2 separate regions of the Homo sapiens genome follow, and region 2 is linked to region 1. A link means that fine-mapping ties the variant in region 1 to the expression of a gene that starts in the linked region. Tissue or cell type: caudate. Region 1 holds a variant in brackets; the other region holds the start of a gene. All regions are shown on one strand. Distances are between the middles of the regions.

What was found. PIP is the estimated chance that this variant, and not a neighbour inherited with it, causes the effect.
Region 2: STPG3 starts here. The variant in region 1 is fine-mapped to the expression of STPG3 in caudate (GTEx, PIP 0.95).

The regions. Positions count from the first base shown.
Region 1 is chr9:137,677,468-137,685,467 of GRCh38, forward strand. All of the region lies in intron 1 of EHMT1 (euchromatic histone lysine methyltransferase 1), which reads left to right. LOC124902319 (a long non-coding RNA gene) reads left to right here and starts at 2,946. Exons shown (of 2, transcript XR_007061886.1): 1 at 2,946-7,868. The variant T/C (reference allele first, on the strand shown) is at 3,722.
Region 2 is chr9:137,247,513-137,255,512 of GRCh38, forward strand. STPG3 (sperm-tail PG-rich repeat containing 3) reads left to right here and starts at 3,774. Exons shown (of 6, transcript NM_001004353.4): 1 at 3,774-3,884; 2 at 4,226-4,383; 3 at 4,489-4,623; 4 at 4,925-5,013; 5 at 5,150-5,453; 6 at 5,603-5,971. The coding sequence starts at 3,775. The coding sequence ends at 5,733. It overlaps CIMIP2A (ciliary microtubule inner protein 2A), which reads right to left and starts at 239. Exons shown (of 7, transcript NM_001001710.3): 1 at 148-239. The coding sequence starts at 203. NELFB (negative elongation factor complex member B) reads left to right here and starts at 7,815. Exons shown (of 13, transcript NM_015456.5): 1 at 7,815-8,000. The coding sequence starts at 7,854. It overlaps STPG3-AS1 (STPG3 antisense RNA 1), which reads right to left and starts at 5,985. Exons shown (of 4, transcript NR_038389.1): 1 at 5,651-5,985; 2 at 5,363-5,463; 3 at 4,879-4,994; 4 at 2,707-3,855. It also overlaps LOC124902316.

The DNA of each region.
Region 1 (8,000 bases):
GATGGAGTCTCCCTCTTTCGTCCGGGCTGCTCACCGCAAGCTCTGCCTCCCGGGTTCACGCCATTCTCCTGCCTCAGCCTCCCGAGTTGGTGGGACTATAGGCGCCCGCCACCACGCCCGGCTAAGTTTTTCTATTTTTAGTAGAGACGGGGTTTCATCGTGTTAGCCAGGACTAGGCATTTTTAATGAAGGGGGTACACAGAGTCAGCCACAGTGGTGTTTATAATTGACAAAAAGAGTTGGTTGGGTAGATTGTGCTGTTACTATATAACACAACACTGTTGTGTATCTTAAAAAAATAGTATTGTCAGCCGAGCACGGTGGCTCACGCCTGTAATCCCAGCACTTTGGGAGGCGGAGGCGGGCGGATCACGAAGTCAGGAGATTGAGACCATCCTGGCTAATACGGTGAAACCCCGTCTCGACTAAAAATACAAAAAAAGAAAAAAAAAAAAGCCGGGCGTGGCGGCGGGCGCCTGTAGTCCCAGCTACTCAGGAGGCTGAGGCAGGAGAATGGCGTGAACCCGGGAGGCGGAGCTTGCAGTGAACCAAGATGGCGCCACTGCACTCCAGCCTGGGCGACAGAGCGAGACTCCGTCTCAAAAATAATAATAATAATAATAATGTTGTCAAAATCTTAATCAGGTTTAGTGGAAAAATAGATTAAAAACTAGTATATAATCCACTAATATAAAAAATCTGTAAGGGATATACTAAGATGTTTACTGTTGGTGGTAAGATTAGGGGCCATTTTTGTTTCTTGTGATTTGTTTTTTCTCTCCTGATGACACTGCTAGAGCCCCCAGCACAGTGTTTGAATGCTGTGGAAGTGGCACCTCCATGGCTTTTCCTGATCGCTGGGGGGAAGCATGAGGCCTTTCACCATAACGCTGCTGAGTAAGTTGGTAACCACAAGATTTTCGTAGATATCCTTTATCAGGTTGAACTTTTTATTGTGAAATAATTTTGTGAAATGCTTTTTCTCCCTCCGTTGTCACGATCATGTGCTTTCTGTCCGTGTCAGTTCCCTGCGTGCAGCCGTGCGTGTTCTGTCTGGTGTTCCTGTCTCGCCGCGTTGGGATAGCCTCACTCACCTGGGATGATACCTTCTGAGATCCCTAGCTGATGCCTGAAATCACAGATAGTACTGAACTCTCTATATACCAGGTTTTTTTCTTAGACACATATACCGATGGTAAAGTTTAGTTTATAAATCAGGCACAGTAAAAGTTATATGAATGTCCCCCCCCCCGCTCCCCCCGAAAAACGTATTGCACTCTACTCAGTCGGCGTCTTGTGATCTGTCTATCTGACGAGGGAGACGGCTGCCCAGCAGCTGGCAGATGGGCATTGGTTACAGGATGGACACAGGGACAGAGAAAGGACTCACATCCAGGGCAGGACTGATGGTGCAGTGCCAGAGTTAGCATGCTACTCAGAGCAGTGTGCAGCTGAAAACTGAGAATTTGTTTATTTATCTTATTTTATTTTATTTTATTTTTTTGAGATGGAGTCTGGCTCTGTCGCCCAGGCTGGAGTGCAATGGCGCGATCTCCGCTCACTGTAATCTCCGCCTCCCGGGTTCAAGTGATTCTCCTGCCTCAGCCTCCTGGGTAGCTGGGACTACAGGCACACGCCATGCCCAGCTAATTTTTGTACTTTTAATAGAGACGGGGTTTCACCATGTTGGCCAGGCTGGTCTCGAACTCCTGACTTCGTGATCTGCCCGCCTCGGCCTCCCAGAGTGCTGGGATTACAGGTGTGAGCCACTGTGCCCGACCTGAGAAATTGTTTGTTTCTGGAATTTTTCATTTAATATTTTTGGACTGTGGTTGACTGTGGGTAACTGAAACTGTGGCAAGCAAAACCACGGATCAGGGGACTGCTGCGATTGATCTTCAGGTTCAAGCAGCCTTGCACCTGGGATACATCTCGGGTGGTCCTCAGTGTGGCACCCTCTTGACATGCGGTTGCATTCATTTGCTGATGTTTTGTTAGGGGTTACTGATGTGGAGTTCCCTTTGTTTTCTGTGTAATGCTGTTCTCACAGAAGGCGCTGGGAGGTGTTTCCTCCTCTTCTTACTAATTCCTGAGCACTGATGGGGTTGAGCATTTTCCTGTATGTCTGTTGGCCATTTGGGAATGCCTGTTTAATTCATTTGCCCGTTTTTATGTTGTCTTTTTTAAAAAACTGATTTGTAGTTCTTTCCTTATAGAGTTAAGAGTAAGTAAAGCTATTGTACTTAGCCAAATACATTGGATATTTTTTTCTGTGTTTTAAAGTTTATTTATTCATTTTTACCATATAAATGTTTGAAATATTTTGGTAGTTAAATCTGTAAAGCTTTTCCTTTGTGATTTCTGACCTTGGCATTGTGCCTAGAGTCAGGAGTTCCTTGTTTCAGGGCTGTCAGGTATTTTTTCCTGCTGTTTTTGTGATTTATTGTTTTATGATTCTTTCACTCATTGATCTGCAATGCTGATGGCCTTCTCCTCCCAGTACTTAGCCAGCTGCCTCAGTGTCTCAGTGAGTGTTTGATTATTCTCCTTTCCTGCTGATGTGAAATGCCTCTACGTTGTATCTGTATCTTGTATTGTATTCCCCCTTCCTGCTGATGCGAAATGCCTCTACGTTGTATCTGTATCTTGTATTGTGTTCCTGTTTTTAGATGAAAGTCTTGTGGCTTTTTTTTAGTTGCTTATGCTATTAAAAGCATCAGGTGGGACCAGGTGCGGTGGCTCACACCCATAATCCCAGCACTCTGGGAGGCCGAGGCGAGTGGATCACTTGAGGCCAGGAGTTCAAGACCAGCCTGGCTAACATGGAGAAACCCCGTCTCTACTAAAAATACAAATTTAGCCAGGTGTGGTGGTGCACGCTTGTGATCCCAGCTACTTGGGAGGCCGAGGCATGAGAGTCACTTGAACTGGAGAGGCAGAGGTTGCAGTGGGCTGAAATTGTGCCACTGCACTCCAGCCTGGGCGACAGAGCCAGACTCTGTCTCAAAAAAACAATTATCAAGTGGGTCATAATTTGCATGGAAATAAATTATGTATAGATTTACCAGAAGGAATAGTCCATGAGAAAAGGTAGATTGTACTGTTCACGTTCTGTGTGAGATACCAGTGTTTTTCATCAGTACTGTTTGTCCATTGTGAGATGGTCCTGCACCATGTTTTCTTAGCAACCATGGCAGAAGGTAGTTGGAAATTAGATACTGCAGTCTTCCAGAGAGGCCTCAGTGTGGGGGGATGCAAAGAAGGTGCACTGTGTGCGGGGCACCACCTGTGAGACCCTAACCCCGAGCTGCTCCCCACACCACACTGGGGCCGCTGCGTGAGACTGGTGAGGCCGGACACTTGCGTGCGAGTTGCACGAAGCAGGCTTGTCACTCACAGATGAGCAGGGGACAGCAGATGCCGGGGCTCGTGGTGATCTGGCCCCCAAGGCTCAGGCAAGTGGCCAGGGTGGATGGGGTCTTGTCTGCATTATCTGTGTGTGCCCTATGTTGTACTGCAGTTGGGAGACCCCGAAAGTGCTATTTTGGGTTTTATACTCGGGGCCACCTGACCCGCTGGACTGAGTTTTAGGACACCCTGTTGTGGGAGGGACAGGAGCAAAGCCCAGGCCACTCTCAGCTGCTCCTTATCTCAGGGTGTTGCATTCCCAGCACATTGGAAAGTTTTTCTTGAGAACTGCAAGCAAGAAAGGAGGGAGAAC[T/C]GGGTGGTTCAGTTCTCTGTCCCCGGGGAGCTGTCCTGCTGGGGCAGGTGATGGAATCTGCCACATTTTCAGTGTTTTTGCCGCGTGTCTGTAACCAGCATCTAAGTGTGCAGGGGTTACTTTGGAACCCTGAGAATTGTATTTAGCTCCAGGCCTCAGGATTTTGCTATAACTTTGTAGTAGCTGCATTACACATCCCACAAATTCTTTTGGCCTATAAAATATATAATTATAGATCCTGAGGAACTTGGCTTAATATATTATTGATACAAAAACAGTACAAAACTGCTTTGACTAAAATTCCTTCGTTATTTGTAGTAGCAAAATATGTTGTTTTTTCTCTCCAGCAATTCAGAATTGTCCACTGCCTTGGTATTTCTAATTTCCCTGCTTGTCCAGGTGACATCTGTTTGCTTTCCTGATACCTTCACAGGCTTCCCTTGTCCCCAGGAAGCCTCCCACGCCCGTCCACTTTCTCTCCTGTCTCCAGTTTCCCATGAGGCACAGCTGGTGCCGAGGCATCCGAGTCTCCCCTGCACCTCTGGATCGCACACACTCATTCTGCTTTTCCCTCCTGTATTTTGACCAGATCTGACTTTTGCTAAGTCCATGTGCCCCTCCAGGTGTTTGTGTGGTGAGACATTGTGCTCATTCATTCCCTGGAAAGTTTGCAGTGTGTCTGGTACGTAAGCGTGAGGCGGGTCACTGATGCGGGAAGCTCTCCTCACAGTGAAACCGTCCTCGCGGTTTTTGTGTTTTTTTGTTTGTTTGTTTGTTTTTTTGAGGCAGTCTCGCTCTGTCGCCCAGGCTTGAGTGCAGTGGTGCCATCTCGGCTCACTGCAAGCTCTGCCTCCCGGATTCACACCATTCTCCTGCCTCAGCCTCCCGAGTAGCTGGGACTACAGGCGCCCCCACCACGCCCGCTCATTTTTTGTATTTTTAGTAGAGACGGGGTTTCTCCGTGTTCGTCAGGATGGTCTCAATCTCCTGACCTCATGATCCGCCCACCTCAGCCTCCCAAAGTGCTGGGATTACAAGCGTGAGCCACCGTGTCCGGCCAAAATCGTCCTCTTTAAAGCAGCCACTGGGTTTGGAATTTATTAAATACTTGAAAATCTCAAAAAGTTAAAAATGTCAGGTGAACTGTTGTTTTTTCCCCCCAGTACCAACCTTTATGTGTTATGTGAGGAAATACTGAGTTTATTATTTTTGATGGAAAATTTATGATTTCTAAGAAGTCATTTTTTGACTGAGAACTTTTATCTTTCTCAAATCTTAGCCTGAACTAGCCAAGTTCAGGCTGCTGTAGCGAGCGTCTCCCTGGCGGCCAGAGTTGCAGGGCTGTGCTAGAGTTTGCTAGCCGCTGGGATGCCTTGAGATAGAGGTGTGACCCTGGGCCTCTTCACCAGGTGGCAGAAACCAGCTTAGATCAGCTTCTGCTAAAGAGGCCACTTGTCACCTCACATGACAAGGAGCTTGGAGAGGCTTTACTTCTGTGTGCCGCCTTCCCCGTGGGCGGTGAGCTGTCCCTGGGGTCATATCCAACCCCCTGAGGATGACGGCTGCTCTGTTAGTCTCAGTGCTGCACTGAGACCCGCAGGCCCCACGGCTGGAGAGGTGGGGAAGGATGTGATTTCTGTTACTGGACAGGCAGTGCTGGGCCCCTAGGACGATGGGTCACTCCAGCCCAGCTGCGAACAGGTGCGCTGCCTGCAGGGGCTGCCCTGCACGTGCGAGTGAGTGCCCACACGCTGCACCAGTTGGAACTGAGAGTCAGGCGGAAGGGCCTGTGTGCCCTGGCCTTAACTCTGGGTTTGCAGGATTTTCGCACACCACTTTTATTTCAGTTTCTAGTTCTTTCCACAGCTAGATTCAGTTATATTAATAAGCATAAAAGCCAAAATTGTGTTTCTGTTACATGGGTTAGTTAGGTCACTGTTTGACAGGCATTCTCATTTAATAGACTTTATTAAAATCATCAGTAAAGCTGCTACTATGGGATACAAGCTCAGAGACAGAATATATTACACTTATTTGAATCTTTGTTAAAATGGCATTTGTAGACAAGAGATCAGAGTCCCTGAGGTAAAAGCGGATCTGCTATTTGGTGCTACGATAAGGCTAAATAGCAGTGAGAATTTCTGCTGGTGCCCCCAGGGAATTAATAAGGCTGGGAGGGGGAGTAAAAACTATACATAAGCCAGTGCCTTTAACATTCATGTATAACCTTCCAAACATTTAACGACTGTGTGAATATGTGAATTAATTAATAGAGATGAGGTCATGTTATGTTGCCCAGGCTGGAGTGCAGTGGCACAATCATGGCTCATTGCAGCCTCAACCTCCTGGGCTCAAGCCCAAGTAGCTGAGACTACAGGTGCACCATCATGACTGGCTATGATGTAGATTTTTTTGCTCATATTGGTTAAGGGAAAAGTGGTCGTCTAACAGTATGTGTAGTATCTCATTTATATAATATGTGTAAATTATACCTTTATCAGCGTATTTGCACAGAAAAATGTTTGGAAGGTTATACTTGAATGTTAAAGTAATTGGCTTATGCATAGTTTTTATTTTTTCCCTATTAATTTCCTTTATTTAAATTAAAAAAATTATACAATGACACGAGTTTATCTTTTCAAAATCAAATCCCATTCAAGCAGAATGTCCCTACCTACCCCCTCACTCTCCACCCCCGCAGCTTGTATTGTGATGAGTTTGATGTATATCCTTCAAGATCTTTGCCTTTAATTTTTTAGAGAGATGCTTGAACCCGTCAACAATATAATATTGCTTTGTATATATTTCATTTTTTTCCTATTAACTGTTTTTTGTTTGTTTGTTTGTTTTTTTGCTTGTTTTTTGAGACAGGGCCTCACTCTGTCACCCAGGCTGGAGTGCAGTGGTTGCAGTCACGGCTCACTGTAGCCTCGACCTCCCGGGCTCAGGTGATTCTCCCACTTCAGCCTCTTGAGTAGCTGGGACAGGAGCATGCCACCACGCCTGGCTAATTTTTGTATTTTTTGTAGAGACGAGGTTTTGCCATGTTGCCCAGGCTGGTCTCAAACTCCTGGACTCAAGCAATCTGCCCGCCTTGGCCTCCCAAAGTGCTGGGATTACAGGGGTGAGCCACTGTGCCTGGCCAACTGTTTTTAATTTGAAATAATTTCAACTGAATAGAAAAGTTGCAAGTGTGATAAATGAGATGTTTTTCTTGAGCCGTTTGAAAGTTGCCTAGATGCCCCTTCATTCCTAAATACATTAGCGTGTATTTCCTACAAAGCCATTATTTTTTGTTGTTGTTGTTTTTGATTTTGTTTTGAGATGGGGTCTTACTCTGTCACCCATGTTGGAGTGCAGTGGTGTGATCTTGGCTCACTGCAACCTCCACCTCCCAGGCTCAAGCAATCCTACTACCTTAGCCTCCCAAGTAGCTGGGACCACAGGTATGTGCCATTAGGCCCGGCTAATTTTTTCAATTTTTGGTAGAAACAGGGTTTTACCACTTTGCCCAGGCTGCTCTCGAACTCCTGAGCTCAGGCGATCTCCACCTCAGCCTCCCAACGTGCTGGGATTGTAGGCATGAGCCACCATACCCAGCGTACAAAGCCATTCTTTTACTGAATTATGATATAACTAGTCAACGTCAGGAAGTTTATATGTATGTTTAAAATATATATGTGGTATTTTGCTATGTCCTGTTTTTTTACTCCACAAGTTATTATTTTCTGATTTGAATTACTGCATATACATTGTATTTTTCCTTTTAAAGGAGTCTTTTCTAATAATTGCATTGGTCTCATAGCCACAAATTAAAGAAATTTATGATTGCATCTGTAAGGTTTGTTTGTATACCTCTAAATCTTTTTTCCCCTTGCTGGTTTTTTTATTGTGATAAAGTATACTTAACATAAATTTTACTACTTTAGCCATTTCTAAGTGTGCTATTAAGTGGCATTAAGTACCTTCACAGTGTTGCATAACAACCATTGTAACCGTCATCAGTCTGTTTCCAAAACATTTTCATCACCCCAAGCAGAAACTCTGTATCCATTAAACAGTAACTTCTCTTATCTTCCTCCTCCCAGCTCCTGGTAACCCCTGATAGACTTTTTGTCTCTGAATTTGCTTAAACCCGATATTTCATGTAAGTGGAATTATACAATATTTGTCCTTTTGTGTCTGGCTTATGTCATGTAGCATAAGGTTTTCAAGATTCACCCAGGTTGTAGCAGGTATCAGAACCCATTCCTGGATATATACTGTGTTTTGTTTATTC
Region 2 (8,000 bases), 430 kb before region 1:
CAGACTGCAGTGCCCCGTGGTGTGGCCTTCAGTTTCCTGGGGTCCAGCTCTGGGCCCCTCACAGCTGGCCTCCATGCCTCAGGCCCCAGCCATTCTCCCCCTCCTGCAGCCCTGGCCCCAGCCACCTCCAGAGCTCCCGGCTCTCACCCAGGGACATAGTGAGGCTCCGGCGTGAAGAGATCGTGTTTCTGAGTAGTTGTCATTTTGCTTTCACTCTGGCCTTGCTGGCTCCAGTCCCTCCCGGCATCCAGCTCCCTTCCCTGAGGGGAGTCCTGTCACCGGGCAACCATTGTGAGGGGCCAGCATTGTGGGCACCTCCTGGGCCAGGCCACCTCGCTAACCCTGTGAGGGCCCACATTGCACAGGTGAGACACTGAGGCCCAGACAGGTGCCAGGCAGGGGAGGAGTTGCGGTGAGGCAGGTGGTCCGGGAGGAAGTCCCATTAACTTCAGAGCTCAGAAAACAGGACTGTCCCTCCAGAAAGGGCCTGGGCTCTTGCTGCCCCCAGGAGGCCACCAGCCCCAGTCTCAGGGTGAGGCTAAGGGAGTCCCCAGGCCCCCTCCTCTGACAGGAGGCCTTGCAGCTGCAGAGCCTTGGCTCGAGTCAGGGGCTTCCCGGCCTGCAGGGCTGTGCGAACTCTCCCTCCAGCCCTTCATGTGGCGCAGGGTGTTATGTTTACATTTTAAGCAAATCCTGAATTTTGTTCTTTTTTTGTACAGGAAGGACTTCCTAACCATAAAAATGAAGGAAGGCGGCCAGGCACGGTGGCTCACACCTGTAATCCCAGCACTTTGGGAGGCCGAGGCAGGCAGATCATGTCAGGAGTTCGAGACCAGCCTGACTGACATAGTCAAATCCCGTCTCTACTAAAAATACAAAAATTAGCCAGGTGCGGTGGCGTGCGCCTGTAGTCCCAGCTACTCGGGAGGCTGAGGCAGGAGAATGGCGTGAACCCAGGAGGTGGAGATTGCAATGAGCTGAGATCGTGCCACTGCACTCCAGCCTGGGCCACAGAGTGAGACTCTGTCTCAAAAAAAAAAAAAAAAAAAGAAAGAAAGAAGAAAGGCTGGGCACTGTGGCTCATGCCTATAATTGCGGTGCTTTCGGAGGCCGAGGCAGGATGAGGTGTGCAGATTGCTTGAGCCTAGGAGTTCAGGCCAGCTGGGCAACATGGGGAAACCCCACCTCTACAAAAAAGAAAGAAAAATTAGCCAGGCATGGTGAATGTGCCTGTGATCCCAGTTACTTGGGAGGCTGAGGTGGGAGGATGGCCAGAGCCTAGGAGGTTGAGGCTGTAGTGAGCTGAGATCGCACCGCTGCACTTCAGCCTGGGCAACAGAACCAGACCATTTCTCACAAACAAACAAAAAAACAACTAAAAGGCAAACTAAAAAACTGGAAAAAAGTTTGCAGTAAGTGCTATGAACAAATCTGGTATCAGCATAAAAAGCTCTCACAAAACAAAGATATAAACAACACCTCCATGGAAAATGCAGACTAATATGGTTTTTTTTTTTGTATTTTTAGTAGAGACAGGGTTTCACCATGTTAGCCAGGATGGTCTCGAACTCCTGACCTCGTGATCCGCCCACCTCGGCCTCCCAAAGTGCTGGGATTACAGGCGTGAGCCACTGTGCCCGGCCAATATGACCTTTTTAAGAAAAAAAGACCGCAGTCCGTAAATATAAGGGCATAAAGCAGGACCATAATCACATACATGCTGACTGTGTGTTGAGAGCAGTTTCTGAGGCTTACTGCCGGCAGGGTCACAGTGAGAAGGGCCTCTAATTTGGGTGGTGCCTTCTGGAAACCAAGTTGGTATGGATCACGTCCATACAAGACACTGCAAACTGGGACCATTGCTTCCACTCCTAAGAAGCTGTCTGGCATTCTGGTAGACGCTGGTTTTCCTCCACCGTTCCTGGCTGGTAATTCCCATATTCCCATAGCCCTTGGTAGGGCCTTTTGTTAGAATGTTGGGTGGGTGATGCTTGGGGGGTGCGGGCGGGGGACTTTTACCTCCTGCCCTCCTTTCACCTGCCCCAAGGCAGGACGCTAACATTCTCACCTTTCTGACTGTGGGTCTTAAGACCCTTCCAGGAGAGGTCCCACCTAAGCCCTGGGGGCAGGAATGCTGACATCAGGAAGCTTCCGTAAAATCCCAAGAGGACTGAGGCTCAGGGAACTTCTGGACAGGGGAACACCTGGAGGTTCCCAGAGGGCGGCAACTAGCGAGGACATGGAAGCGCCAGCCCCTCCCCGTGCCTCTCTCTACGCTTCTTCATTGGTATCCTTTGCAATCAATACCCTTTACAATAAACCAGTAAACGTCATAACTTCCCTAGTTCTATGAGTGGCTCCAGCAAATTAACCCAAAGACGGTGTCACAGGAACCCCAAATTGAAGCTAGTTGGTCAGAAGTTCCAGGGGCCCAGGCTTGCGACTGGTGTGTGTCTGGAGGCCCTGCCCCTATCTGTGTCTGGAGGCCTTCTTGGGATGGAGCTCTCACCCTGTGGGATCTGACACCATCTCCAGGTAAATGGTGAAGGAAATGAATTAGAGGACACCCAGCTTGGTGTGTGGGGAACAACCCCCCTCCCTCAACATTTGGGCAGAGGCCTCCTTCTGTGACGGCTGTGGTGGTGTGGGCGCAGAGCCGGACACTGAGAGAGCATTTCCCCCACGCACCTTCTCAAGGAGAGGATGGATGTCCAGCAGCACCATTCACGGTGGCAACGTTTATTACAGGGCAGGGAGGACCTGGAGGAGCCTATCTGTCCAATGACAAGGGCTTCATTAGCAAAGTACACTCTGTTCCACTGGCAGCCAGTCAACTCTGAACCCGGCACAACCTGGGCAGGGGCCCCGGAGCACAGGCGTGAACCCCTCGCCCAGATAAAACCCGTGTTTCCTCAAGCACGTGTCCATCTGTCTGCCTGGCAGGCCCAGTGCTGAAGGGGAGGCATCCAGAGAGGGCGGAGGAGGGCCCCAAGTTGGCCCTGTTCACAGGCCCTGCCCTGGTGGATTCTGGGCCAAGGTCAGGGCTGGGACCAACTGGTGGTCAGCTCCAGAGACCACACAGTGAGGGCCCTGGTGCCCACACGGGCTCTTGCTCACACAGGCTGGCTGTTCCTTTGCAGCTCTGGCAGCCCGGCCATCTGTGACACCCTCTAGCCTCTGTGCCCCCAGGTGAGAGGTAGGCCCTCACACCCCAGCCCTGGCTGGGCTCCAAGGCCCGGCCTGCCTCTGGTGTCAGACCCATCTGATGTGGATTTGCTTTTCCCTTAAGTGGAAATCCAGATGGGGTGGCGGCTCCTCCTCTTCCTCCAGGGAGCCTTCCTGGGCCCCTCCCTCCTACCCCCAGGGGGTCCTGGCTGGCCAGACACAGCTGGGCATCTCCTAGGGCTTGGTGGATGCCGGTGGGTCCTGTTCCCTCCACCCCCTCTGCTGAGGCCTCAGTCCTCCCAGACCTGCTAGAGTGGACCCCAGACTCCCAGGAGACCCCAGGGTGCAGGAGAGGGGAGAAGGCTGGAAAGGTTGCGGGGAGGGAGAGGGCTGGGCCAGGAGTCACCGGGGCAGGCTGGGGGTCCTGGCCCAGGCGGACCCGCTGATCATCTAGTTAGTGGGGGAGGGGCCCACCAGGGGTCGGGGCCCGGGGCAGCCCCTCCAGGGCCAGACAATGTGTCTTCCTCAGGAGTCCCAGCAACAGAGGGGCCTACCAGTGAGGTCACAGAGCTCCGTGGTGCCGTTGGGGAAGAGAGCCAGGAGACTCTGATGATGAATTCTGACCAGAAGGCAGTGAAATTCCTGGCAAATTTTTACATCAATGGAGGCAAACACTGGACCCATGGTCACCTGAGGCAGACACAACCAGAGCCCACCCAGTAACTGGCGGAGAGGGGGAGAAGGGGCGGGCCAGCTGGGAGTGGCCAGGGGGCTGAGGGACAGTGTGGGGGGCAGGTTGCTGGGCAGGCGGCTGGGGGACTGAGGGACAGTGTGGGGACAGGCTGTGGGGCAGGCGGCTGGGAGCGGCCAGGGGCTGAGGGACAGTAGAGGGGACAGGCGGCTGGGAGCGGCCAGGGGCTGAGGGACAGTGTGGGGACAGGCTGTGGGGCACGTGGCTGGGAGCAGCCGGGGGCTGAGGGACAATAGAGGGGACAGGCTGTGGGGCATGTGGCTGGGAGCGGCCGGGGGCTGAGACAGTGGCTGCTGGTCTCCCTTGCAGGCCCAAGGCATCTGTGCTGTTGTTGGGCCCGGAGCCGGGGATGGCCTGGGATGAGACACAGCCCCCAAAGATGAAGGAGATCCCAGTTGGCCTCAGGTTACAGACGGGCACCCCCCAGGAGTCCCTGCCCACCTACACCCAGACCCTGAGGGAACTATGTGAGTGAGGGTCCTGGCCACCCCACCCCCAAGCTGGTCTTTGGGGGGCTGTGGGAGGGGCCCGCTGAAAGGAGCCCAGGCCCAGAGCTTGCTTCCTGTGGCCAGTGCTGGAGCAACGCCCCCTGATCACAGCTGACCTGGAAGTCCCCAGCCCCACCAGGTACCAGGTGCCGAGCCCGTCCGTACGAGAGTCCTCCCCACACCCCCACTACAGCATCGGCTGCAAGCACCAGGGCCGAGGTGTGTGTCCCCTCCCTGAGGCCCAACCACCGGGCCTGTCCCTCACCCTGGGAATGGGGGCCTTTGCCTCTGTGCTGAAACCCCCACGGCCTGAGGGCCCCTCCACCCTTCCCTGCGTTCACCTCTAGGCTCAGCACCTGTAAGGAGGCCTGGAGAGAGGAGGGCTAGGGCTGGGGCATGGGTGGACATTGTGAAGACAAGGGTTCAGGGGCCGAGGGTGGGAACCGGGAGACAGGTTCGAGTGGGGACTGTCACCTGGGTGGGGCTCCCAGCCTTCTCTCTCTCCATCCTCCAACTACAGAGGGCGGTGGCCGCAGGGCATGGCAGACTTTGTGGTTCCAGAGCGAAAGCCCCTTCACGCAGAAAGCTGACTTCGACCAAGAGCAAAAGGTTGGGGGCTGGGCAGGAAGGGGGCGGGGAGTCCACGCAGGCAGGGGGCTGGGGGTTCCAGTGGGGCCAAAGGGGGGCTGGCTGAGGGTCCGTGGGGAGCACCCTGCCCTGCAGCCCGTCTCCTACCCCCTCGCAGTGGCCCTCGCCAGCCCACTACCAGCTGCTCAGCCGGCCCGCCTTCCCCGCCTTCAGCTTCAGAGGCTGCCACTCCGCTTCCAAGACACCTGAAGGCCACACCCACCTAGGGCTGCCTGGGGCTAGGGGGCTGGGCCTCAGGGTGCAGCCCCAGTCCCTGCTTCAGGCCTCTTTGCAGGCACCTGGCAAGAGATGCCCTGGCCCCAACACCTACAATATCCTTCCTGGGAGCCGCCTGCAGAGCCCCCGCTCGCCGGCCTTCTCGATGAGCCGCTCCCCTGCGTTCACCTCCTGGCTCAGCACCTGTAAGGAGGCCTGGAGAGAAGAGGGCTAGGGATGGGGCATGGGTGGGCAATGTGAGGACAAGGGTTCAGGGGCCGGGGGTGGGAACTGGGAGCCAGGTTTGAGTTGGGGCTGCTACCTGGGTGGGGCTCCCAGCCTTCTCTTTCGGCAGCCCGAACCCCTGGCCCAGCCGCCTACCACGTGGAGGACTGCAACTCACGCTTCCCTTCGGCGCCTGGCGTGGTCATCCAGGGTGTACGCAGACCCAAGCGCCACGACACAGGCCCCTTCTGCACGCTCTAGAGCCAGCTGGGCACAACCTGCTTGGCCCGGCCACCGAGTGGAACCATGGCCTCCCCCGGGGCTTTCCCAGGCCTCCCCTGGGACTTGGGGCCCCAGCCTGGCCTTCTGACCCTCTGGGCACCCCGATGCACCCTTCTGGCTGGCCAACCCTTCTATGGGCTGTGGACAAGGCTGGCCCAGCCTGGATCCCCCATCTGCCCATCTCCCCGCTACACTGAGATGCTGTTGGTTTTCCCGAGCTCTGTGGTGTGCAGTTGTCTGTCCTTCACCCGGGGGCGGTCCTAGAGATATGGCTGCCGCTGGGTCATTTCCGGCTTTCCCTGTTGAGGGGTCTCCATTCAGCTGCCCCTGAAAGGTGCTCTCTTCTCTAGGGTGGCAGCCTGTGACTGACCCTGAGCTCTAGCCTGGAGCGAGATGGGAGGTGGGCTCTGTGGGACACCCCCACCCAGCCGTGTCACTCAGGGGCCTGGTCTAGCTGCTGTCCACCTGAGGGTCAGCTGCTTGCCGAGCCAGGGAACTGGGAAGGAGGCGTCAAATGCCCTGAGCCGCCACCTCCAGGTGGGGTCGGCCTGGCCAGACCTCAGGAAGGGCCCAGGGATCTGCTCACCAGGGCCCAGCCCCACTTCCCCTAGGCCTTGAGCTGAAGACCTGGCTGGGCTTAGTCACCTGTGCCCTGAACACTCTGGCCCAGGGCCCTGCAGACTCCACTCCCGGGGCCTTCACCTGCTGGGACCCTGCACTGCCCCTGCCTGCAACTTCGCCTGGCTGGGGCCTCCCTTGTCATCACTGGCCTGCCCTCCTACCCAGGGTCGGGCCCCAAGGCTGCCACCTTGCAGGAGCCTTACCTGCGGTGCCGTCACCCGCACCTCCCCAGGTCCTCCCCAGACCCAGGACCCAGACCAGGCCCAGAGCTCAACCCCTTCAAAAAGGCTCTGGGCAGCTGCTTCTGTGGCCTCAGCACCACCCCCTTTCTCAGAGAGGAATCCCAGGCTCAGGATTGTGTGTGTGCTGTGACCCTTGTCCTCCTCTGCCACCGAACCAGCTGGGGGTTGGATCAAGGCACTGGAACCCTCGCCCTAGGGCTGACCAACTTGGCCAGCGGCAAGAGAGCTGTGGTAGCCATGGCCTTGGGAGCTCGGCCCGGCTTGTGGGAACAGGAGCTCTGCTCACGGCTGCACCACCAGGCACCCCTGGTGAGACCCAAAGCTAGGAGTGGGAGCGGCAGGAAAGATGGAGCGATCTCCTCCAGCTGGGCTGAGGAGGGAGGGCTTCCTGGAGGAGGTGGTGGAGGAAGAAGCCTTCAAGGAAGAGCAAGAGTTTGCTGGGCAGCGGGAAAGAAATTTCTAGAGAAAATTTCAGCAGCGGAGACCGAAAAGAGAGAGGGTGTGTGTAGGGGGCTTGGCGCGGCACAGCCTGCGGGAGGGCGGCGGGCTGGAGAGGCGGGGAGGCCCGGGGAGCCCACCCGCCTGGGATAAGAAGGGACACTGTGGAACCTGGACTCTCCTTCACGGCTCCGCGGAGCTCGGTGGGCGCCACAGCCTCCCGGTGCCTGGGAGGGCGGCCGTCGCTCGCGCTCCCGCTGCGGGCCCGGTCTCCGCCAGGCCCCGGCCCCCTGAAGGCGCTCAGATCTCAGTTTTGGCGACAGCGCCGGGGTGGGCTTCGTGCCCGTTTCACGCGGAGGAACCCACGCTCAGGAGGGAGTCTGCGCCTGTGTCCGGCCCCTGCGGGGCAGAGGGGCGGGGAGCTCAACCCCCGGCAAAACGTCCCCGCTGCGCGTGGCTGCCGCGAGATCTGCAAGAGCGTTTTCCACGCTTATGTACACGAAATTCACTCGGCTGCGACGACGTCCGTTCCCGGAGCAGACGGACCCTGAGTCCGCCCCCCACGCCCTCACCCGCCCTCTTCTGCCAGAAAGCCCGGGCGCGGGCGGGACCGGGTGGGCGCATGCGCGCTGGGCTGGCTGGGCGGGGTCTCTCGCGCCGGGTGAGGGCGCTGCTCCCAGGAACCTGCGCGCGGCCCCGGCGGCGTTTCCCGGGGGCCGGTTGGCGGGCGGACCTGGGCGGTGCGGGGCGGAAGTGGGCGGCTGCGGGACGCGCGCGGAGTCGCGCGGCGGGCGGGACCTGGCCGAGCTGGAGGGCGCCGGGGAGCGGGGCTCGGGCGGTCCCCGAGGCCCGGCGGAGCGGGCTTCTGGGGTGTCTGCGGCGGCGCCGGGGGAACGGGCTGGGGATGGGGCGCCTAGCCGGGCGGTGGCCGGGGCCTCGGCCATG